2 separate regions of the Homo sapiens genome follow, and region 1 is linked to region 2. The links come from fine-mapping of genetic effects on gene expression. A gene starts in region 2. The other region holds a variant in brackets. All regions are shown on one strand. Distances are from middle to middle.

Region 1 (16,888 bases), 160 kb after region 2:
TAACAATGTGCAATGATATAATCGTTGTCATATATAGTCTATTCTCTTCCTTCATACTGTGCAAGCTCTTTGAGGGAGAGGTCCCGTTTGCTTTGTTCACATTGCATCCCCAGGCAGATCACAGTGTCTGGCATATTGTAGGTGCTCAAACAATAGTCATTAAATGAATAATTAGATGATGTCTTCAGATTACACCCAGCTATTTTTTATTTATTCAAACATTTAAGAAACATCTATTGAACAGCCGCTGCAAAAAAAAAAAAAAAAAAAAAAAAAAAAAAAAAACCAGCATAATGGAGCGGTTATGTACGTGTAATCTAGAGCCAGATTGCTTGGGTTCAAACACTGGCCCTGTCACTTACCAGTTGTGTGACCCTGGGCTAGCCAACTAAGCTTTCTGTATTTTAGCATCCCAGTCTCTACGTGGAGAAGATACTAGCACCTACCTCACAAGGTTGTTGGGAAGATAAAGTGGATGAATATACTTAGAACAGTGTCTGGCATATCATCAATACCAGGTGTTTGCTACAGTGATGATAATGACATACCAGGCTGGTCAGGGCACTAAGGACACAGGAGTAAAGAAGTCAGGTAGGTCCCTACATTCATATAACTTAGATTCTAGTAAGAGAAACAAACAACCAACCTATAAACAAAATTTCAAAGATTTGTAAACACTGAGAAGGAAATGATGCTTCACTGCCGTGGAGAAAGCCACACTGAAATGGACTTTAGCATGCAGAGCATTTATCAAGGAGTGTCAATGTCAGTGGAGAGCGGGAGGAGAAACTGGAAGTGAGCAGAGAGAGAAGGTGAGCTGCAAAGCATGCCTAGTGATAGCCTCAGCCAACCCCAGAAGGAAGGCAGAAGTGGAATGACCCTTCAGGGTCATCCCAAGTTGACCTGAGGCAGACAGGCCTTCAGATATCCCACTGGATGCTGGCCACCCTAGGATGGGGCATGGCATTGGGGAAATCTCTCTGTGGCTGAAGCAATTCCTATAGGGGCTGACAGCTGGAGACTGTCTGCCACTGGCCCTCCAGCAGCTGCAGCAGCCAGGTCTCCATTGCAGGAGTATCGGCCACACACTCAGTTTGCAGATAGTGTGAGTGGGAGCTACCTAAAATAAAACAGTCACACCTTAAATATTACCTCTTTGAGGAGGTAATATTTAAGCTGATAACCATATGGTGAGAAGGTGGTAGACTTCCAGATAGATAGATAGATAGATAGATAGATAGATAGATAGGAGAAATAAATAGATGGGAGAAAACACTCTTATTAAAGGGAATAACAAGTGTGATATCCCCAGGTCAGAACAAGCTGGCAGCACTTGAAGTGCAGACAGCAAGAAGACCCATGAGGCCAGAGCATGGCATAAAATGAGGTCTGAAGAAGCCAGCAAGGGCCAGAACATGAGAACCTTGCAGGAGTTTAGATTTATTCTAGAAAATGATGAGTAGCAATGGGAGGGATTTATTTTTTTAAAAAAGGTCCCGCTAGCTGAATGGATTGAAGAAAGAACCAAAATGAAAGCAGAAAGAACCATTAAAAGGTTACGGAAGTTTTCCAAACACGAGGTGGCATGTGGATGAAGATAGAGAAAAGTGGCTGTGTTTATATGCAGTGCTCTGTAGGAAAACCCACAAGGCTTGCTAATGGATTAAACGTGGGAAATGAAGGAAAGGGGAATGAAGACTGACTCCTAGTTTTTTGGCTTGATAACTGGAAGGATGATGGTATAAGAGCAGATTTAGGCATGAAAATAAAGAGTTCCATCATGGATTCTTTTGGTTTGAGATGCATGTTAGCCAGTGAGTGGAGATGCCAAGTAGCCAGATACACAAGTCTAGAGCACAAAAGAAGCAACGTCAAAGGCTGAACATCTGTACTTGGAAGGCATAAGTAAACCGATGATATGTTGATTTGTTATTGCTACATTACCATTCCCAACACTCAGTGTTGTAAAACCATTGATTTTTGCTGCCATCTGCAGATTGCCCGGGGTTCAAGTGAGGCATCTCTGCTTCTGTCTGCAGGTCTGTGGGTCAGGTGGGCAGCTCTACTCTGTCTCTCATCCTCCTGGGACCAACAGGCCAGCCAGGCAATGGCGATGGCTCAAGAGGAAGCACTGGAGGCCTTGAGAAAGACCTGGGGGCCGGGCGCAGTAGCTCACACCTGCAATCCAAACACTTTGGGAGGCCAACAGGAGGAGGAGGATCATTTGAGCCCATGAATTAGAGACCAGCCTGGGCAACATGGCAAAACCCTGTCTCTACCCAAAAATACAAAAATTAGCCGGGCCTGGTGGCACACGCCTGTAGTCCCAGCTACTTGGGAGCCTGAGGTGGGAGGACTGACTGAGCCCAAGAGGTTGAGGCTGTAGGGAGCTGTGATTGTGCCACTCCAGTCTGGGCGATAGAGTGAGACTCTGTCTCAAAAAAATAAAAATAAAAATTTACAATAAATAAAAGGTGGGGGCTCATGATACACCTGTACTTCTGTCAATATATTAGTACCAAAAGCAAGTTACACGTCCAAGTCCCACATCAAGGGCAGAAGTATATTCTGCCTGAGATGACACCCTGGATGCAGGAAGTGGGAGAGAGGATAAAATTGGGATCCATAATATAGTCTACCACAGATGAGATGACCAGGATAAGAACATAGGCAGGGCTGGGCGCGGTGGCTCATGCCTGTAATCCCAGCACTTTGGGAGGCCGAGGCGGGCAGATCACGAGGTCAGGAGTTTGAGACCAGCCTGGCCGACATGGTGAAACCCCATCTCTACTAAAAATATAAAAAATTAGCCAAGTGTGGTGGCACATGCCTGTAGTCCCAGCTACTTGGGAGGCTGAGGCAGGAGAATTGCTTGAACCCGGGAGGCGGAGGTTGCAGTGAGCCAAGATCACACCACCTCACTCCAGCCTGGATGACAGAGTGAGAGTCTGTCTCAAAAAAAAAAAAAAAAAAAAAAAAAAAAAAGAATGTAGGCAAAGAACAGGGCCTTGGACAAATCCCTAAGTTACCTCTGCATTTGCTGCTCAACCACAAGAAGAAAAACAAACAAGGATTTAGAAAGAGCAGCAAGTGCCATTGGAGAATAATTAAGAGAAGGTGAGAGAAATGAGAGAGTGAGATTTCAGGAAGAAGACTGTCAAATGTTGCTGAGACGTGAAATCACATGTGAGCAAAGAAGTGGCTACCATAACTGGCAGCCTGGTCGACAAATCCAGATTTCCTATGGCAAGACGAGAAGACAGTTGAGACGGTTTTCATCTCATCCTGGGTTCTCAGAGAGCAAGAAAGCAAATTCTGTGCGGACAATGAAAAAACACCACTCTCTCCAGAATAGGAGGATTAGGAAGGTGAGCAGTGGATGATAAGGTTGGAAAGGTTGTTGAAGGCCAGATTGTCAAAGCTCTTGAACACCTGGCTAAGGAGTTGGAACTTGGTCCATTGGGCAAAAGGGAGTCATCCAAACCTCTCTGAGCACAGAGTAATGTATCTCAAGTTTTGTTTTAGGAAGAAAAATCCAAATGCAATATAAGATGGCTTAGAGAGAGAAGAAAGTGGTGGCAAAAAAGCCAATTATCCCGGTTCTGTTGGTCTGGCCTCTTGCCCAGAACTTAACCTCTCCGGAGGGCCTGGGGTCCTTTTACATTAAGCTGCTGGTGTTTGCAGTTGTTGATTGATTGATTGATTGATTGATTTTGACAGAGTCTCACTCTGTCGCCCAGGCTGGAGTGCAGTGGTGTGATCTTGGCTCACTGCAACCTCTGCTTCCCAGGTTCAAGCGATTCTCCTGCCTCTGCCTTCCAAGTAGCTGGGATTAGAGGCGTGCATCATCACATCCGGTTAATTTTTGTATTTGTAGTAGAGAGGGTGTTTCGCCATGTTGACCAGGCTGGTCTCGATCTCCTGACCACAAGAGATCCACCCGCTTCAGCCTCCCAAATTGTTGGGATTACAGGCGTGAGCCACCATGCCCGACTAGTTGTTGGCATCTTTCTTGCTTGCTTCCTCCTTGCCTGATTGACCTTAGTGGCTTTATGATAACTTTCTAATCGCAATCTGGGTCCTGACCCTCTGCTCCACTTTCCATCCCAGCACTCACTCATTGAGGAAAAGCAGAGGCATCTCCTTCCCTCTTGTGTTCGAGGGGAACCACAGCCTGGCCTATTGGACCAGGCTCACAATTCCAGGCTCCTGCGCACATCTGTCCCCCCAAGTTCCTGCTGCTCTCCTTCCCCAGGTCCCATTCCTGTCCACCCTCCCAGACTCCTCACAGCCTGCTAAACGTCCATGGAGTTCAAAGCATGGTGACAGCACCTGACTTACTGGCGTAGGCTCTATTCTTCTTCCTGTCTCACCTCAGGTGTGGTATTGGAGAGATCTTCCACCTCGTGCAAATGCTGGTCCTATCTAAAGTCTCACTTGGCCCCTCTAGTGACTCTTAGCAGAAAGTTGAGGTGGGGAGAGCATGTAAGCAAGCCCTGATCCCGAGAAGCAGCCACTACCTCCACTATGTGATACCATCTGCACCATTTTGCAAGAAGCCTAAAAGAAAAATACGCCAACAAGTGTCTCACATAATGAAGTATCACTATTAGTATTACATAGTAATTTGGCTTGGAAAATTTTTCCTGCATTCTCACGCCTGGGCTTCCAACAGATCTACAGCAGGATGAACAGATGTTGTTTCTAGAACATAAGGATTACGTGAAATGAACTATAGTTAACGTGAGAAGTCACTATTGCATCTGTGCTAGGAATTTTCCTTGTTGATTTTATAGGGCCAGGAGATTTTTCCATAGCACATACATATTCAGTTGCTATGCATGGTATTTTCCTGTTGTCCACCAGCCAAATATTCTTTAGCTGACTGGTTCCAGTGGGAAATAGAGAAAAGCATAAAACTGGAAATGAGGAAGTAATGACATCAGTGTTCAAATCACAACAAACAACGTGAAAACAAATATTCCACTTTAACCTGATTTATGCTGTTAACGAAGGATTGGATTTGGCAAAATCAGAAACTGCTAACTCTTCTGTGTCACTGCCATTAAGAAACAATTTGTTTTCCTCAATTTGGTGCCTCTTTTGCCAAAAGGGCTCACTGGGAAGTCTTTTCCCATGTAAAGGGACACGTGCACGCTCTCGGATTCCACCACTGGGTTCTAGTTGCACTCCTTGCTACTGAATCCTTTGGTGATCTCTGCCTCTGAGAGCAGCCATGCTACCTGCCTGGTGACAGAGCCACTCTGAGCTGCCTGTTCTGACGTTACGTTACGTTACGTTACGTTACGCTACGCTACGCTACGCTACGTTACGTTACGTTACGTTACGTTACGTTACGTTACGTTACGTTACGTTACGTTACGTTACATTATGCAGGTCCAGAAACAACTTGAACTCCAGACTCTGCTCTCTGACTATTCCATTATTGGATTTATTTCAGTTTGTGATAACCAGACTGGATTACTGTGCTCAAGAGGGACCAGGCTCTTTAGTCTCAGGCTCCATGCTGTTCCCTCCTGCCATGGCCTACCCTACTGGCAAAGCTTCATGTGCTCTGATGTCCCTTGTTGCCTTGGCAGTTAGTCACTAACATCTCATAGTCATTTCTTTGCCATTGTGAATAGTGCTGCAGTGAATATTCACATGCATGTGTCTTTATGATAGAATGATTTATAGTCCTCTGGGTATATACCCATAATGGGATTGCTGGCTTGAATGGTAGTTCTGCTTTTAGCTTTTTGAGGAATCACCACACTGCTTTCCATTGCAGCACTATTCGTAATAGCGAAGACATGGAATCATCCTAAATGCCCATTGATGACAGATTGGATAAAGGAACTATGGTATATATACACCATGGAATACTACACAGCCATAAAAAAGAACCAGATCATGTCTTTTGCAGGAACATGGATGGAGCTGGAAGCCATTATCCTTAGCAAACTAACACAGGAACAGAAAACCAAATACCACATGCTCTCACTTATAAGTGGGAGCTAAATGATGAGAAATCATAAACACAAAGAAGGGAACAGCAGACACTGGGTTCTCCTTTGAGGGTGGAGGAGGGGAGGAGGGAGAGGAGTGGAAAATAACTGCTGGGTGCTAGGCTTAGTACCTGGGTGATGAAATAACCTGTACAGCAAACCCTGTGACACAAGTTTACCTATATAACAAACCTGCACGAGTATCCCTGAACCTAAAACAGAAGTTTTTTCTAAAAAAAAAAGTTACTTCTTAGAGGTGCTCTGCAATACCTTCGTCAAAGGGTAGCTCATAGCCGTTTCTCCACTGAGTCTCCATACTGCTGCAATAGATTATATTTCATAGCTCTTTCCAAAAAGTCTTTTTGAACTAAACTTGTGTAAGTCCCTAAAACATTAGTAGAGGAGGCCGGGCACGGTGGCTCATGTAATCCCAGCACTTTGGGAGGCTGAGGCGGGCAGATCACCTGAGGTTGGGAGTTTGAGACCAGCCTGACCAACATGGAGAAACCCCATCTCTACTAAAAATACAAAATTAGCCGGGCATGGTGGCAGGGGCCTGTAATCCCAACAACTCAGGAGGCTGAGGCAGGAGAATCGCTTGAACCCAGGAGGCGGAGGTTGCAGTAAGCCGAGATCACGCCATTGCACTCCAGCCTGGGCAACAAGAGCAAAACTCCATCTCAAATTGTCACACTTGAAGCTGCCATTTAGACTGTGTCCTTTGGGTCCCTGAGGTGGGATATGGCCCACTGTCTCTCTTGTAGCCTCATGTCCTTCAGTGTGTTATTTGCCTTTCCTAAATGAATCCTATCCCTACTGTCACCTCCAGATGAAACAAGGATGCATTAGTAACACTAGTCCCCAGTCTCTCAGTTCCCCAGGTGTAGCCCTACCATACCCTGGGTTATATTTTTAAAGGAATGGAGACCATGACTATAGGCTGCGTAAGAGTCAAGTTACTCAACTATTTATTAAGCACCTTTTTATGCCCACTACCAAGGAGTTCCTGGCACTCAGCTATCATCACTAGTCTCAACAGGAATCCCTGGAAGGGTGATTACATCACATGCTTTTCACAGCCCCCTTGACCTCCAATAGCTGTGGTGTAATACTGGGTGATCATGGACACAGAATAGAGCAAGTCTAGGCCGCAGATGACCCCAAGGCAGATGCAATGCAGCTGACTCTCACATCCTCCTCCATCCTTCAAAAGGTTCAGAGTAAACAGTGCCTTTATGTTATGGTCATTATTCTGTGATTCCCTTCTCTGCTTCATTACCTCATGTCTGTTGCTTTGACTATAAACACAGACCAAATGCCAAGACAGAGAGTAAAGTCACCAGGAAACCCAGCTCCAGTGCCAAACCCACCTTTGCACCCTTGGACTGCAGCTATGTTTGTTTAAGGATGGCAGGAAAAAGGTGCACACATGGCTCAGTGCTCATTTGCTTCCTGCTCTGTTAGGTATTAAACCTCAGAAACTAGGGCAACTCTCAGTCTCTCTCGCTATAGCCAACTGACTAGAACATTAACCTCCAGTTTAACATCTGATATGGTTTGGCTGTGTCCCAACCCAAATCTCATCTTGAATTGTAGCTCCCATAATTCCCACGTGTTGTAAGAGGGACCTGGTGGGAGATAATTGAATCATGGGGGCGGTTTCCCCCATACTGTTCTCATGGTAGTGAATAAGTCTCACAAGATCTGATGGTTTTATAAGGGGACACCCCTTTTGCTCGGTTCTTATTCTTTACTTGCCTGCTGCCATGTAAGACGTGCCATTCACGTTCTGCCATGATTGCGAGGCCTCCCCAGCCACATGGAACTGTGAGTCCATTAAACCTCTTTTATAAATTACCCAGTCTTGGGTATGTCTTTATCAGCAGCATGAAAACAGACGAATACAACGCCCAATGAGTGTTTGCCTCCTCTCCTCTTCTCTTCTTTTTTCTTATCTCCTCCCAAGTTCCTGTAAGCTAAACACCATAATGTAATAAGCAAGAAGTATATGTTGCAGGATTTCTCTTGTTTATGGTTCTTATAGAAAAAATATTGTTGATTATCTTAACCTGCATGTAACTTATAATAACAAAAAGATTCCTGTCAAATAATTCTCCCTTAATAAATTCCCTTTGCCATTATAAACTAAGACATGACCTTGAAGAATTAATACCCAGACAATACAACATTTGTGTGTTATTTAATTAGCTTACTGCTTTTGTTAATGTACATTCCTGTGGTCACACACCACTTTCCACTCAAACCTAAAAAAAATGCTACACGGGATGAAAAACTTTTTTACCAGTGTGTCCATATTTATGCTCCCTTAAAAATCGTTTTTAACCTCCTAGCCAGGAGTTTTGAGGTTATCTCAGGACAATAGCTAATTTATTAAGTCCTAG[A/G]CAATTATAACAACAATAAGCCTTTGTGCAAACTTTTGGCATACTAGAGATTTGGGGTTAAAAAAAGAGAGAGAGAGAATTTGTCAGATCCAGCAGAGACCACTGTCATTTTGGTACCATCTAATCCCCATTATGAAGTGATTTTTATCAAACTGGGAAGTGATCATCTGGCAGCATAAACGACACTGGAGAAACGAATTCAATACATCAGAGAGGTTATTCCATGTCATCTACATGCTCAAACAGGAGAGACAGAGAACATTGGCTCTCATAAATCCTTAGTTTCCGGCCAAAGGCCTCTCAGAGCTCTTGGCTGCCTAATCAGATGTCTGGGATTGTGAAAGCAAATGAAGTTTATGGAGCTGAGGGGGAACTTCTGATTTACCATAAAAAGGAGGTTTGAACTGGATAACTTTTTCAGTATTCTACATAATTATCTGATAATTATGTAATTATCTAATAATTATTATCTCCATTTTACATATGACACAACGAAGACTACAGAGAGTTGAGAAACTTGCTCACAGTCCGGCAGCAAGGAAATGATGGATTCAGAATGCAAATCTTCCCACCACACCCACATCACAGAGGAAGCTGCAGATCTTTACCGGTGATTCCATTTCAGCGCCCCCAGGTTGCCCAGTCTGGGCATGATGTAGTAACCCGGTGACTCACAGCACCGCACTCATGAGGTTGAGAGTCATTCAGTGATTCAGCAAGTACTACTGGGCAGCTACTGTGTGCCAGGCACTGGTCTAGGTGCTAGGGATACAGCAGTGAATGGAAAAAACTGCTGTCCTCACCGAGTTTACACTCTACTCAGGGGTAATAGATAAATAAATAAGTACATAATAATGTCAGGTAGTGATGAGTGCGATGAACACAGATAAGGAAGGGCAGGGGGCAGTGGCTCATGCCTGTAATTCCAGCACTGTGGGAGGCCAAGGTGGGATGATCGTTTGAGGCCAGAAGTTTGAGACCAGCCTGGGCAACACAGCAAGACTCTGTCTTTACAAAAAATAGAAATAAAAAATAACTGGGTGGGATGGTGTACGTCCATGGTCCTAGTTACTTGGAAGGCTGAAGACAGAGCAGCAGGAGGATCATTTGGGGCTGGGAGGCGGAGGCTGCAGTGAGCCAAGATTGTGCCACTGCAGTCCAGCCTGGGCTACAGAGTGAGACCCTGTCTCAAAAATAAATAAATAAATAAAATTTAAAATTATATGTATTTGAAAAGAAGAAGAATACATTTGAGCAAAGACTGAAGGAAATTAGGGGAGAGGGAAGAAAGTGACCCATGTGGTATCTGGGAAAGAGCATTTCAGGCAGAGGGAATATCAAGGGAAGGGCCTAAGCAGGAAGCTTAGACAGTTAAGGAAAAGTTCTTAGAATATTGCGCCAGGCTGCAGCAGAGCGAGCAAAGTGGTAGTTGAAAGAGATGAGGGGCATGGGGTGGCAGGGATGGAGGGGATCAGGAAGAGCCCTATGGCTTCTGAAAATAATTGGGATTTTACTCAGTCTGGAAGTCTTTGGAAGGTTTTCTGTAGCAAAGTGATATAGTCTGATTTACATTTTAAGAAACTCACTCTTAGTTGCCAGCTAACTTGGCTGTCACCAGTTAGCAAGGCCCCAAACCACAAACAGAATGAGAGGTAAGATGATAGTGCAAAAAGCACAGGTTTGGGAACTAGATCTGTTTCCAAATCTCAGCCTTCATCATCTGCTGGCTCTATTAACCTTGCAGTTGTTACTGTAGCCTCTCTGAGCCTCAGTTTCCTCAACTGCAAAAGGAAAAAATAACCTCCTCTATACTTATTAATTAAATATAAAGCACATGAAATATAGTAGTTAGCACTAAAAAATAAAAAATAAAAAAACCAGCCTTGTAGTTATTCGATTTAGTGATCAACTATTGAGTTACTTTATCATTATTAAAAATAATGCAGGCAAAAATTAGCCAGGCATGGTGGTACACACCTGTAGTCGTAGCTACTCAGGAGGCTGAGACACAGAATTGCTTGAACCTGGGAGGTGGAGGTTGCAGTGAGCCGAGATCGCACCACTACCCTCCAGCTTGGGTGACGGAGGGAGACTCTGTCTAAATAAATAAATAAATAAATAATACAGGCAAGACCTGGATTGAATAATATGTCTTCTCTGCCACTAGAATAATCACAACAAAAAATTAACAGTGGGGAAAAAATGAAAGAAAGATGTGCTCTTCCTTGCTCTTAAAAAACAACCCGGAAAATTGTATCCTAGGAAATTTTTAAGTATATACAAATAATTGTAAAGCAAGTAATGAATCTTAGTTCATTGTACATAGTTTCAGTAATTAGCATTTATCCAATCTTATTTTATCTTGTTTTTCTGGAATATTTTAAAGCAAATACCAGATATATTATCATTTCAACTATAAATCCTTCAGTTTGTATTCCTAACAGAAAAGAAGTTTTTGTTAACATAACTCCAATACAATGATTGTGTCGAACAAAACTAGCAATCATTTCTTAGTATCATCTAGTTAGTACCTAGTCCATGTGCAGATTTCTCAACTATCTCAAAAGTATCCTTTTACAATTATTTTGCTCAAATCAAGATCTAAACTAGGCCCATCAATTGCAGTTAGCTGATAAGGCTGTCAAGTCTCTCTTTATTTATTTATTTATTATTATTTATTATTTTGAGACGGAGTTTTTTTGTTCTTGTCGCCCAGGCTGGAGTGCAGTGGCACGATCTCAGCTCATTGCAACCTCCACATCCTGGGTTCAAGCGATCCTCCTGCCTCAGTCTCCTGAGTAGCTGGGATTACAGGCACATGCCACCACTCTTGGCTAATTTTTGTATTTTTAGTAGAGACAGGGTTACACCATATTGGCCAGGCTGGTCTCAACCTCCTGACCTCAGGTGATTCACCCGCCTTGGCCTCCCCAAATGCTTAGATTACAGGCGTGAGCTACCTCGCTTGACCTCAAGTCTCTTTTTATCTGCAACAGTCTCTTCTTCTTCTTCTGCCCCTTCCCCTGCTCCTCCCCTACTCCCTCTCTCTCTTCTCTCCTCCTTCCCCATCACCTCTCCTCTGTCTTTTGCTTTGAAAAAACTGTCCCTCTACATGCAAAGACATCAAATACTATACTGGGGACACTCTCCAGTGCTTCAGAGAGGAGTAAGAGGAATGCTTTTTTGTTTCCAAGAGAGGAGGTGAATACTATGAACTCCCGTAGAGAAAATACCATGTAATATGGTGAGGAGATGGCTGAGAGCCGACTTAGACTTTTTAATATGGGTATAAAGGGCTGTCATGGAAACGGACCATATGATCTGAGGCTTCTCTTCCAGTCCTAGAATTATCTGGGATCTATCAAGAGATAGGTATTTAGATGATTACCATGGGAAAATGACCAACAGAATTTCCTGTTTTCTGTTAAGGAGCAACCAGAAAATGTTTCCTTGTTGGTTAGAAATGACAAAAGTGTTTCCTTCCTGCCTGGTGGAAAGGAAGGGGATAGGCCGGTTGTCACTATGAAAGGCCGATGCTGCCCTTAGCACTGATGGCCTAATTGGGTTGGTTTAGCTAAATCCAACTCTGGAGTCATAACTAAAGCTAGTCAGCCTTTATTAATACTGTCAGGTAATTCTTAGAACAAGACTAAAAAGAATTACAGGGATACTGATAAATTCTGAATGAGCAGAAGTGGTTTTTTGAGATGAGAGAAAAGAAAACCAGGTTAAGATAGCTCCTTTTGATTCCATACCATGGTATAAGTAAGTTTTGCCAAAGGATCACTTGTGGAAATAACTACCAAGGTGCTAAACTTTCAAGATCTTGTCCAAGAAGTGACTTCTGAAAGCAAGTACAAAAGTCACATTTAGATATTGGTTCCCATACAGTTAAAGAAAGTGTATTTATTTAATTACTTTATTTAACTATCAGGTACAAAATCCCTTTGCAGACTTTAATAAAACCTGGGATCATGCCACTTCACTCCAGCCTGGGCAAAAGAGCGAAACTCTGTCTCAAAAAATATACATATATATGGTGATAAAGTTTCCCATTTTCCAATGCAGCTTCACATTTGAACAGCTCTAATTGATACAGCATTATGGCAGGGTTTTTGTGTGTGAGTGAGATCCAAAACACTCAATCATGTAAAAGGGTACAGTCCTGTTGTATGTTAACACACTGATCATATAAGCCTATGAGATGAGCCAATCACCAATTATGTTACAGTCGAATCTGCTTTGTGTTGGGATGCTTTAATGTAGGGTTTCACTAAATAAATGAATTTTCATATACTGAACTGAAAAAAAAGACCAAAATTAGAAATGAAGTATATTTGTATTCATTGCAAATTATTTTGGACTTGGGAATCCTTTTGAAATGCCCACGTGAATCAACAAGCAGTGGGAGGTGAAGAAAAAGAGCGTGGTCTCCCACTCATAGCTAATTCTGGCTCTGGTAATCAGAGAAACATAAGAGGCAGCCAAGTAAGGACTGGCAGCTCCAACCGGCTTGTTTTGTTATTTTGTCTTTGACTCAGTAGTCAACCTTCCTTTGGCATTCATTGGAGTGTGACCTAGGACTAGGCCCACTGTGTTCTGAGTATAATAATTCCTCATCAAAATGTAAAGCCAGGAGTCTAGTTGAATGGGAGGGCCTATCACATGGCTGAAAATGATGCAGGACAGGCAAGCCCCAAAATTAGGGTTTAGCCCAGGAGGGTTCTTAGCTTCACCCAGGAAAGAATTGTGAAAGGAAAATCTTGGAGTCCCAAAATCATTAAGCTAAAGGGAAAAGTCAAGCTGGGAACTGCTTAGGGCAAAACTGCCTCCCATTCTATTCGAAGTCACCCCTCTGTTCACTGAGATAAATGCCTATCTGATTGCCTCCTTTGGAGAGGCTAATCAGAAACTCAAAGTAATGTAACCATTTGTCTCTTATCTACCTATGACTTGGAAGCCCCCTCCGCACTTAGAGTTGTCCTGCCTTTCTGGACCAAACCAATGTTCATCTTATATATGTTGATTGATATCTCATGACTTCCTAAAATGTATAAAACCAAATAGTCCTCTGACCACCTTTGGCACATGTCATCAGGCCCTCCTGAGGCTGTGTCACCTATTTATTGGCAAAATTAACTTTCCAAATTAACTAAGATCTGTCTCAGATATTTGGGGTTCACAGAATCCAAGGGTGAGTGGTGGCATTAGAAAGCAGGGCTGCTCCATGCGCTGTGTGCCCAGATGAGCAGCTCACAGGCAGTTCTGTACTCGTATCTATACCCACTTTTAATTATATGCAAATTAAAGTGCAGTTTATGCAGACATTTCTAGGATGAGGGTGGTAACTTCTGGGTTATCAGAGTTGTTGCCATAGAAAGGGGCAGTAGCTTCAACATGAGTGTTGCCATAGCAATGGTAATCTGACATGGCACACTAGTGGGTGTGTCTTACAGAAAGCTGCTTCCACCAGGACCTGCTTTTTGTTTTTTGTTTTCTGAGAAGGAGTTTCCCACTTGTTGCCCAGGCTGGAGTGCAATGGCACGATTTCGGCTCACTGCAACCTCCACCTCCTGGGTTCAAGCGATTCTCCTGCCTCAGCCTCCCGAGTAGCTGGGATTATAGGCACGGACCATCAGGCCCAGCTAATTTTGTATTTTTAGTAGAGATGGGGTTTCTCCATGTTGGTCAGGCTGGTCTCGAATTCCCGACCTCAGATGATCTGCCCGTCTCGGTCTCTCAAAGTGCTGGGATTACAGGCCTGAGTCACCGTGCCTGGCAGGACCTGTTTTAGCTAGTCCTTGGTTTGGTCCAGTGTCCAAGCCCCGCCTCCGGAGTCGAGTCCTCCTCCTGCCTCACTCCCTGCTCAGAGATTAGATACTCCATTTTTTTTGTTTGTTTGAGACAGAGTCTCACTCTGTCGCCCAGGCTAGAGTGCAGTGTGCAGTGGGGTGATCTGGGCTCACTGCAAGCTCCGCCTCCCAGGTTCACGCCATTCTCCTGCTTCAGCCTCCTGAGTAGCTGGGTGCCCGCCACCACGCTTGGCTGATTTTTTTATTTTTATTTTTATTTTATTTTTTATTTTTTTTATTTTTAGTAGAGACGGGGTTTCATCGTGTGAGCCAGGATGGTCTGGATCTCCTAACCTCGTGATCCGCCCGCCTTGGCCTCCCAAAGTGCTGGGATTACAGGCGTGAGCCACCGCGCCCGGCCTAGATAACTCCTTAATCTCAAGGGGGCTGCAGAAGGGCGGAGGTCCATCTTCTGTAACTGCTTCCTACTGAGTTCATGGGCAGTCGGCCCCACGTAGCACTGGAGGAGTAAAAATCTCTGGATAGCTGGTCTAAGGGGCCCAAAGGCAGGACGTGTTCACTCTCCAGATCAGCAGACCAGATGGGTTGGAACTAGCTGGTCCTCAGTTTGGTCCAGTGTCCAAGCCTTGCCTCCGGAGTTGGGTCCCACCCCCTGCCTCAAAAAGAAGGCACAAATCTCACTAGGTGGGAAGGAAGCAAGAAGTATCTGCAGATAAAGGGAATGGGAGCGGACCACAGCTCTCCACTCGAAAATACATCTCTTCATCTCCTGTGTTTGTCCTACCTCTGGGAATTAAGTTTCTGACAATAAAGCACACGCTAGAGGTAGCACATGCTGTGCGAGGGTTGCCAGTTTGGGTTCAGCGCCCTGAATTACCCTATATATTTTTTTAATAGTTAGCCATGTCTTTTAAGGTCCAGAATTGATAGAAAGAGCAAAATTTTTAATTTTTTCCATTTTAAATTACAATAGGAGGAATTTTGGTTAGATTTGACCAAGATTCTAGTTTATAGTAAGTTGCTTTTAAAGGAAAAAAAATGAAAAGCCAGCCACTGATAAAGGCTGTTCTTTGGAAAAAGACATAATGTACTAATCCCATTTCCTCAAACTAAAATCAATAAGACCAATGGGAAAATACAGGGAGACAGGTTTCAAGTCAGTACAAGGAAGAACATTGTAACACTTTTATCGGCATTAAACATATCACTCCCTGAAGACACACAACAATGGAAATAGTCACGCTTGGATGACTTCTTTTTGTTTTTGTTTGTTTGAGACAAACAAACTCAGCCACCCAGGCTGGAGTGCAGCGGCATGATCACGGTTTGTTGCAGCCTCGACCTCCCTGGGCTCAGATGATCATCCCACCTCAGCCTCCCAAGTAGCTGGGGCCACAAGCATGCACTACCATGCCAGCTAATTTTTGTAATTTCTGTAGAGACAAGGTTTCACCATGTGGTCCAGGCTGGTCTCAAACTCCTGCAAGATTAGATGACTTCTTATTAGGAAATAGACTACCAATGATTTCCAACCACAGTAGGTCTGAAGATCCTTAGCATAAAGAATTTTGAGAACCCCCCACCCCCAGGGTAGTATTTGCACTCTAAGAATCTATTTAGAACCAGTATGCCACAATAACTGTACACTTAAAAATGATTAAAATAGTAAGTTTTATGTTATATTTTACCACAATAAAAAATATGATGACAGCTGGGCGCAGTGGCTTATGCCTGTAATCCCAGCACTTTGGGAGGCCAAGGCAGGCGGATCACCTGAGGTCAGGAGTTCGAGACCAGCCTGGCCAACATGGTGAAACCCCATCTCTACTAAAAATACAAAAATTATCTGTGTATGGAGATAGTACCATTGCACTCCAGCCTGGGGGACAAGAGCGAGACTTCGTCTCAAAAAAAAAAAAAAAATTAGCGGGGCTGTGGTGGCACGCCTGTAATCCCAGCTACTCAGGAGGCTGAGGCGGAAGAATCACTTGAACCTGGGAGGCTGAGGTTGCAGTGAGCTGAGATGGCACCACTGCACTCCAGCCTGGGAGACAGAGGGAGACCCTGTCTCAAATAAATAAATAAATAAATAATAACAAGGCCAGGCACGGTGGCTCACACCTGTAATCCCAGCACTTTAGGAGGCCAAGGCGGGCGGATCACCTGAGGTCAGGAGTTTGAGAGCAGCCTGACCGATATGATGAAACTCTGTCTCTACTAAAAATACAAAAATTAGCCGGGCGTGGTGACATGCGCCTCTAATCCCAGCTACCCGGGAGGCTGAGATGGGAGGTTGAGACAGGAGAATCGCTTGAACCCGGGAGGCGGAGGTTGCAGTGAGCTGAGATCATGCCATTGCACTCCATCCTGGGCGACAAGAGCGCAACTCCGTCTCAAAAAATAATAATAATAAAATAAAATAAATTTGTATTTTATTACAATAGCATTTGCAGATAGGAAACTCGTGTTTATTATTCCTTTTATGAATTTATTGACTTATGGAATGCCTAATATGTAGCAGGCACTGAGGTAGGCACTGAAGACACACAGGTAAAACCAATACGGCGCCTGACCTCATCGAGCACAGATACATGCAAGATGTGCTATTTATTGTGTCTACAGACAATGCTCACAGGTGGATGGGAGCACCCTGTCTCTGACTCCT
Region 2 (8,534 bases):
TTGGAAATGTATAATAATGCCAGTTGCAAATGGTATTGTTGAAGAGTCAAATTTTCCATAAAAGTGATCACCTTTTCAGAAAATAGGTAATTAGTTCTTTGAAAACTAAAAGTTTCTTTTAAAATTTGTAACCATTTTTCAAACTTAGCAGCTTAAATTTGTTGATTTATTCTTCAAATTCATGTTTATTGAATGCTTACTACATGCAATGTATTTTAATGGAAATATTTCCCTCTGGTAAAACAAAATATATTTTACCTTTTATTGATGACTCTGTAAGATACCAATATATGAAAAAAGGATTTTAGCTGACTTCAAATATACCAGCCAACATCACATTAGGTTACAGAAATATAAGCCATAGAGCTAAGTTAAGGAAAATGTTAGTTCTATTCTATGTTGATCAGACAAACCTGGAGTTGAGTTCTACATGCACAGTGTAAGACAAGCTGGGGTATATCTGAAAAGAGGTGATTAAGATGGTGAAAAGTGTGGGAATCCTGTCATATGGGTGTTTAAACTAAAAGGATAGTTAAGATGAAAATTATTAAAACTTTACTTTAAATCATTGAATACCTACCAGAAGAGAAATTGGACTTATTCTGTATGGTTGCAGATGACTAACCTATAAACACAGAATTTTAAGAAGAGAAACATCCCACTTAAATAGAACAACAGTGCCAAAAATGAGCAGAATTGCCTTTGAGGCTCTTGTTTATGGAGATTTTTAGAACAGAAACTGGATGACCTTTGGACAGAGGCTTTGTGGAAAGGGGTTTTGATGGAGTGAGAAGTTGGGCTCAAGGGTCCCTCCTGATTCTGAATGTCTTACGCTCCACTAGGAACCTCACTTACTCTACTAAGTTACCGGAGAGTGATGCCTTTATAGCTTTTTCGTCCTTTGTTTCTGCACTAGAAGGCCTCAGACTGCTGTGGATGTTTTGGTTTTGTTTTTGTACTTATGGCTGCTTTTTAGAGTTTTCCCATCCTTCTCATTACTGGATTGCCTCAGTTTATCCCCTGTCTTTAATAACATCCTGCTCCATTCTAATCTGTTACTTCTAATAGGCTGTGATCTAGAAAGATGTCATAACCAAACTTAATAAAAATACATGAATGATTTAAGTGAGGTCCTGAAGGGCTCTCCTGTGAGTAAAGTCTTTGGTGCAAAGAGTTTTGCCATTTATTTTATTTTATTTATTTTGAGACAAGGTCTCACTCTGTTGCCCAGGCTGGAGTACAGTGGTGCCAACACAGCTCACTGCAGCCTCGACCTCCCAGGCTCAAGCTATCCTCCCACCTCAGCCTCCCAAGTAGCTGGGACCAGAGGCATATGCCACCACGCCTGGCTATGCCATTTATTTTACTTTTTAAAGACCCTTTTAACTTCCTTTCAAGTTCTCAGGAATATTCTAGATTTAACTTATCAATTTTGTGGTTTCTGGGAATTGTTATTGAAATTCTGTAAGTTTGCTAAGCTTCCTACTAATTCATAAAATTACAAAATATTCTGAATCCATGACTGATGTTTTCAAAAACAAAATCATAGGCAATAATATACTTATCCAAGATTTTTCTTATGTAGGTAACCTTTTCTTGGATAGCTTCTTCAAAATGAAAATATCCTTTGTAACTAAACTGGACTATATAAGCAAATGATGTTTATTAGAATGCTGACTATTTTTCTCTCCTGAGCTTTTCATATAGATAGTATTGGTGTCGAATGTGCAGATTCCTTTTGAATATGGGAAATCATTGTGATATAACTGGTTTTCTCCTTAGTCCTTAGTCTCCTTAGCCCCTTAGTATATAACAATAGTTTTAACACAACTCAGTCAAAAACATGTAATGAACACTTATTGTAGGTGTTCTTGGCTAAGAATAAGGAAAAATATCAGAAAAACATAGTAATGTTTTGTATAAACTGAATATTAAAGACTGTTCTACCATTAGAGAGCTTTCTGTCTTGTTAAAGGAAATAAGAGCCAGTTATTCAGCAAAGAAATATATTATCAATGCAGGATTCGTGCAGACAGTAAATGGCTTTGAAATTTGTAATGAGATATGGAGTAGTTCTGTGATTGCTTTGGCAGCACATATGCTAAAATTGGAACAATACAGAGAAGATTAGCATGGCCTCTGCATGAGAATGGCATACAAATTTGTGAAGCATTCTATATTTTTAGCAATATATTGTACTCTTGAAAAATGCTAAGACAGTGAGTGTATTCTTAAATGCATGTTAATATGCAAAAATGCATATGTTCATTGGCTAGATTTAGTCATTCCACGCTGTATACATATTTCAAAACATCATGTTGTACATGATAAATACATACAAGTTTATTTGTTAATTAAAAAACAGAAATGGATTAGTTCTGCCTAAATATACTAGACTCAGAAGTTAATAATAAATGTGCATCCACCCCTTTGTTTAATTTGCCTTGGCTATTAAGTTAACATTTATGCTAAGAACCTTTGGCTGTTATAGTTTCCTATCATTTATTTGGTAAAAAGATTAATTGGAGAGGTGTTTCAATGGCTCCATTAGGAGATATGAAGAAAGCCCCACCATTGCCAGTATTTGGGAACTCAAAGCGTTTATTTTCTAAAGCAGGTGATGCTACATGAATTGCTGTCCACACCTTCTGCTACTTTCCTCTGTTGGCCAGAAGAATAATTTTAATGTCGCCCAAATGGATTATGCTGACCTCAACCCAGATCCCCCTGGGAGATATAAACTTCTTATATGTTCCTGGCTGGGTCATTGTAAATAATATCTACATGTATCCCAAAGCTCTGAATTATCCTCATCTGTAACAGACACAACGACTAAATGGTATCTGGAACGTAGTTAATTTTCTGGAAAATATTCAAAGGAACAAAATGAGCACTGCAATACAAAATTGCTGTCGACTTAACTTTTGCCAGTTTCCCTGGATGTGTAAGTAGAATTATATTTTCACAGAACTTGCAAAAATCTCAGACTCGGCTGCTATTTAATCTCTTTCCAGAAGCACCAGCCCTGAGCAATCCTATCTGCAATTAGCTGCGTGTGGTTGCTACTAAATTGCTCCCCATAAGTTAGTTCCTAACACTGTTTCACAGCACGGCATACTCTATAAAGGGAGAACGCTTGGAAGGACCGAAGAGTTCCCTTTGTCGTGCCCTTGCCCTGCCTCTGGACAACGATGTTCTTACACTGCCGACTAGCTAATCCTGTGACCCTTTTCTTTCAGCACCTTGAGTTTGAGTTAGGCAATACCTCTTACACCAAAGTGGGCACACCTTCGGATCATGTAGGCAGCGATTGTTTAGCCGAGACATCCCCCTACCCCCGCAAAAGGCAGCAGAGAAGCGGCGAACGCCGCTTAGCAGTTGGCGCGCTCTCAGTGCGGGTGACGCGGGGCTGGGTTGGGGTGTTCCGTCCCCGGGTCGTGGGACTCCCCGAGAGGGGGTGGCTGGAGGAGGAGGGAGGGCTTGTTTCGCTGGGGGATGTGGGAAGTAGGCGCTAGCCTGTTTCGCGGTTTTTTAAGCCCCTTGGCATGCCCTGACCTGATCTAGAGGGAGTCTACTGCTCTTAGGAATGTTCCGGGAGAAGGTGGGAGATTGCTTCCCAGGGGAGGCCTGTGGGTGCTGCAGGGCACCAGGGGGGTCACTAGGGAGATGCAGGGCGCGGGCCAGGAGGGGCGCCAGGGCAGCCGGGGGCCAGGCTGAGGCGACCGGGACCAGCGGGCAGCCGGGCGTCGGGGGCGTCGGTCGGGGCGCGGGGGACCCCCCCCCCGGGCGGCAGCGGCAGCGGCGATCCGATCCCGCGGGCTGCGCCGCCCGGGCTGTCAAGCGCGGGGGGCGGGCGGGAGGAAGGGGTGGAGGTGCGAGGGGAGGAGGGCTGGCACCGGAGCGCCGCGGCGTCGGTGCAATAAAAATGCATCGCATGGAACTGCCCGTGGAGAAGGACGGGACGGAGCCGGGGCAGCCAGAAGAGGTGGGAAAAGCGGAGGAGGACGCCCAGGAGGAGGCGGCGGCGGCGGCCGGGAAGTGAAAGGTCTCGCAAAGTTCAGCGGCGGCTGCGGGCGCCGAGCCCCGGGCTAGCGGCAGACGAGCCCGCAGGGCCGCTCCGCGGGGCAGCGCAGCCAGGCCGGCTATGGTCCCGGGGCTCCCGCCGCCCCCCAGGTGCCCGGGACCCGCCAGGCCGGTGCGCGAGGGTCACCCCACCTCCCCGCGCGGTCCCGGCCCCTGGCTCCCAGCTGCCGGCGACCGCTGACCGAGCCCGGCGCCCCAGGAGGAGGAAGAAACCAGGGCCCCGTTCCCTCCCGAGGACGGCGGCGCTTCATCCCGCAGCCCAGAGGTCTCGGCTCCCTCCGGCACCCGCCCGGCCCGGCTGCTCCCGGCTCCTCCCGGCCATGGGGAGCTGCGCGCGGCTGCTGCTGCTCTGGGGCTGCACGGTGGTGGCCGCAGGTGGGTGGTGACGCGGCGGGGCCCCCACCCCTTCCCTCGCTGCTTCTCTAACCCATCTCGGGACTCGGGGGTGCAGGGGAGCCAGGGCTGCGAGCGCAGAGCGCTGCTCCCGAGGGTGAAATGAGTGGCCATGTTCCGCCTCCTTTCCCCGGGGCTCCGCAGTTTCAAATACTATTGATTTATTTTTACAACTGGGATACACATGCGCTTGGATAACCAGCTATCCTGGGTGCGCCCTGCCGGGGATACTGCGACCGGGGTTTCTTTCTTGGTTTGGCTTGTTAAAAAACTGCTTTTCCACTTGGTGAGGGAACAAAGGACCCAGCTCGCCATCCCCCGGCACTTCATGGCCTAAGGAATGATGAGGAGGGGTGGCCCAGCGACCCTGGGCGCGCGTGGGCTGGGGCCGGTCTCTGGTAGAAGCCCATCGCTGGTGTCCCTGACCTGGTGCTGGGTACTAGAGAACCAGGTAAGGACACCTGGGGCAGGGCTGAGCGCCCTCTCCCCGGAGCAGTGACTGGAACGCAGTGGGACTCCTGGCTTGGACGATAGGTGGTGATCACCCCGGGCTTGCATTGAGCTGGCTGGCCGCCCCTGGGGAATTGGTACCCTGGCAGAGACTCTGCGGGAGGTCGGAGGCGGGTCTGCTCCCTGGCTCGGTAACTGGACAACCGGCGTCGGCGTCGGCAGATGCCCTCTCCCTCCCACTCCCATCCTGGCTTTCTTGGGCTGCCCTAGGCCACCGGCTCCTGGCTCGTGGTTTCTGTATTCGGGAGCCCCTTCTGCTCCTCTCCCTCCCTCTTGCGGGTCACCTGGTTTCCAGTTAGGCGTAAGCGCAGCCCTGTAGGTGAGGGGGAGAGATGTGAGGGAGTCTGCAGACATCCAGTCTCTCGTGCGGATCTTGACTGCTTCAGAAAGGGGCGCCTGGGCTAGAGGGATGCGCTGGTGGCTACAGAACATTGTAGCACGCATCTCCTCCCTTGGGCTTCCACTCTTCCCTGAGGGCCGCTGGCACCCAGCAAAATCCAGGCTTTCCAGTCTGCATCCCAAACCAGTCCAAGTCACAGGAGCATCCTTAGTATCATTGAATAGTCCCTTGAGTGACTCCAAGTATTTTGCCCCATGGATTCTTTATCTGGCTCAAATCTTTTCTGGACTTAGGAGTTTAGGGGCATTTAAAATTATTGGATATTTTTCCCAGGGACCTATTAAAGGCCTAAGATTTTACTTTAATTCTTGCACTCTTAAAATATGAGCTTTAAAAAAAACCTTTTCCTTCTCAAACCATATTATGGCAAAAACATGCAAGCCATTGAAAGGTTGTAAATAAACATCACAAGGCAAGTGTTTCAAGTCAAAAATACTTGTACAGGCAGTATATGATTTTCCTTGAAATTTTTTACAGGTGAGTCATAGCACATTGTGTGTTTGTGTGCTTCTGGCCACAAGCAACTGTTGCCCCAGCTAATGAGAAAAGTGGCAAACAGAACCCAGGCATAATGCACACTTTAATTTGACATTTAAAAAATAATGCCTAAGGAAGCCCTTTAGTTGCAAGGCTTCGTGGGGTTGGCCATTGTCAGTGTGTGAAATGTCTCTGTTGCAGCCTAAGCTGTCATTTGGCCTCCTCCAATCCTTACTATGACAACAGTTCAGAGGTACTGCTTCTTAAGCAGCAGAAACATTCAATTAGCCAGAATTTAAGGGTTGATTTCCTTTTCCCTCTTTCCCCCTCTGTTTTAACCTTTAAAATAGATGATTTTTGCTTAAGGTATTCACAATTAAAATGACAAACGCAAATCAAAGGATTATAGTATGTACTCAGAATGTTAATAAGTGGATAATGTTTATCATTTTAAGTCATTTTAAAACATTAAAGTCTGTTGGACCTTTGGGAGGAAAAGTGTGTTTTTTAAAGAAGGTCTTGTAGTTCACAGATAATATTTAAAGGTGCTGTTAGTGGCTGCCAGACTGTAGACACTCTCCTGTTAAGCAAACAGTTAACTACTCTATAACCTGTCACAGGTAGAAACCCTGAAGAGACAGCATGTAAAATAAGCTTTTCTGCCATTTGGCAGTTCAGAGAGTTTTTTTCTTAGTTATGTTTATGTAATGTTAGAAACTGATAGTGCACATCTGAACTCCAAAGGTCTCTAGCTTTGCCTCCCTCTAAATGAGGACCCATTGTATATTTATTAAATATCTCATATTGCTTTTCCTAGGGAATTTATCCCTTCCCTGGCTTAAAAATATAAAGAAAATAGAATTCCACATTTCCTTCTAAATACATTCTCATAATAAACATGTTAAATCATGTGAAGGACTCACATTAAATTTGAAAGACTAACTTAGGTGGTCTTAAAAACATTATGGTTTTTCAATAGTCATGACTTCAAAAACACATCAATGTATTTGAAATACAGAAAACATTTATAAGGCAAAGTACTTGAAAAGTTTTAGGCCAATAATCTTCACCCTGGTGGTTCTATTTTCCCTCCTCTTGCCCTCTGCCTAAAGTGTTTGTTTCTGTGATGTGAATTTTACATCTGAACATGAAAAGCAAATACACACACACACGCACACACACACGCATACACGAATGCATTGTGAATGCAGAACAGTGTTCATGCTCAAACAGGAACATGGTGGAGCATGGTAGAATTTGCCATTTATCGAAAGTCTCAAGCGCTTTTGGGGAGATCCTTGACTGTTGTTGATGGACTAGGTGGCCAAAAGAGCTTTCCAGATGGGTTTGTCTTGCATCATGCATGCTTTCCCTTTCTTAGGACTGAGTGGAGTAGCTGGAGTGAGTTCCCGCTGTGAAAAAGCCTGCAACCCTCGGATGGGAAATTTGGCTTTGGGGCGAAAACTCTGGGCAGACACCACCTGCGGTCAGAATGCTACCGAACTGTACTGCTTCTACAGTGAGAACACGGATCTGACTTGTCGGCAGCCCAAATGTGACAAGTGCAATGCTGCCTATCCTCACCTGGCTCACCTGCCATCTGCCATGGCAGACTCATCCTTCCGGTTTCCTCGCACATGGTGGCAGTCTGCGGAGGATGTGCACAGAGAAAAGATCCAGTTAGACCTGGAAGCTGAATTCTACTTCACTCACCTAATTGTGATGTTCAAGTCCCCCAGGCCGGCTGCCATGGTGCTGGACCGCTCCCAGGACTTTGGGAAAACATGGAAGCCTTATAAGTACTTTGCGACTAACTGCTCCGCTACATTTGGCCTGGAAGATGATGTTGTCAAGAAGGGCGCTATTTGTACTTCTAAATACTCCAGTCCTTTTCCATGCACTGGAGGAGAGGTAAGGGCACCTGTTTAACTCTACACTGTAAGTAAGATAGAAAAATGTTACCAGCCCGCATTTTTTTTTAAAGCATGAAGCTATACTTGTAGCAACATGAATGAAATTAGAATTTTTCATGAGATTTATTTGTCATAAATTATTTCTTACCCTTACATATGAATGTGTAGTCATTTTCAAGCAGATTGCCCACTGGCTGGGTTTAAGTCAGTATTCTAAGATTCAAATTTTTCACATATAAAAAAGAGCAGACACAAATCATCACTCTAGAGGCTCCTCATTGCTTCAGTTCTCGGGACTACTTACTGTGCTTCTGAAGGGGGAAGAGTTACTGAGACAGTCTGTTCCTGGAGCCCACACGGGTATCTTCCTGATAGTGTTAATATAAATAGGAAGTAAATAAAAACAAAGCCAAGAAAGAAAAAAAAATCTGTTTGACAGAAGGATACTTTTGTATGACAGTAGCAAACAAATGAAAGTAGTTTCTTTTAACATACAAAGGTTCTTCTGGGCTCACAGACACATGAATTTCAGCTTAGGCCATCTTAAACTCATTCTGCAAAACAGCCTCATTAGCTACTGATCCAATTTCTATGTGGAATGTTTTCTCTTTAATATTCCTTTCTCCTAAGGGAGAAACAGGTCTCTTTTTAGCTCTTCTTAACTTATGTGGCAATACCTTGAAAGGCTCCCCCCAACCCTCAGGTGTATGAGAACAGAGAAAACTGAATAAAAGCAGATTAAGAGAATATAATACTTC

Evidence for each region. PIP is the estimated chance that this variant, and not a neighbour inherited with it, causes the effect.
Region 1: its variant is fine-mapped to the expression of NTN4 in caudate (GTEx, PIP 0.96).

The regions. Positions count from the first base shown.
Region 1 is chr12:95,625,620-95,642,507 of GRCh38, reverse strand. No RefSeq gene overlaps it. Among named protein-coding and RNA genes, the nearest start is that of USP44, 83 kb to the right of the region's middle. RefSeq lists an enhancer at 8,350-9,549. The variant A/G (reference allele first, on the strand shown) is at 8,411.
Region 2 is chr12:95,786,179-95,794,712 of GRCh38, reverse strand. NTN4 (netrin 4) reads left to right here and starts at 3,949. Exons shown (of 10, transcript NM_021229.4): 1 at 3,949-4,458; 2 at 7,245-7,774. The coding sequence starts at 4,404. It also overlaps the pseudogene RNU6-247P.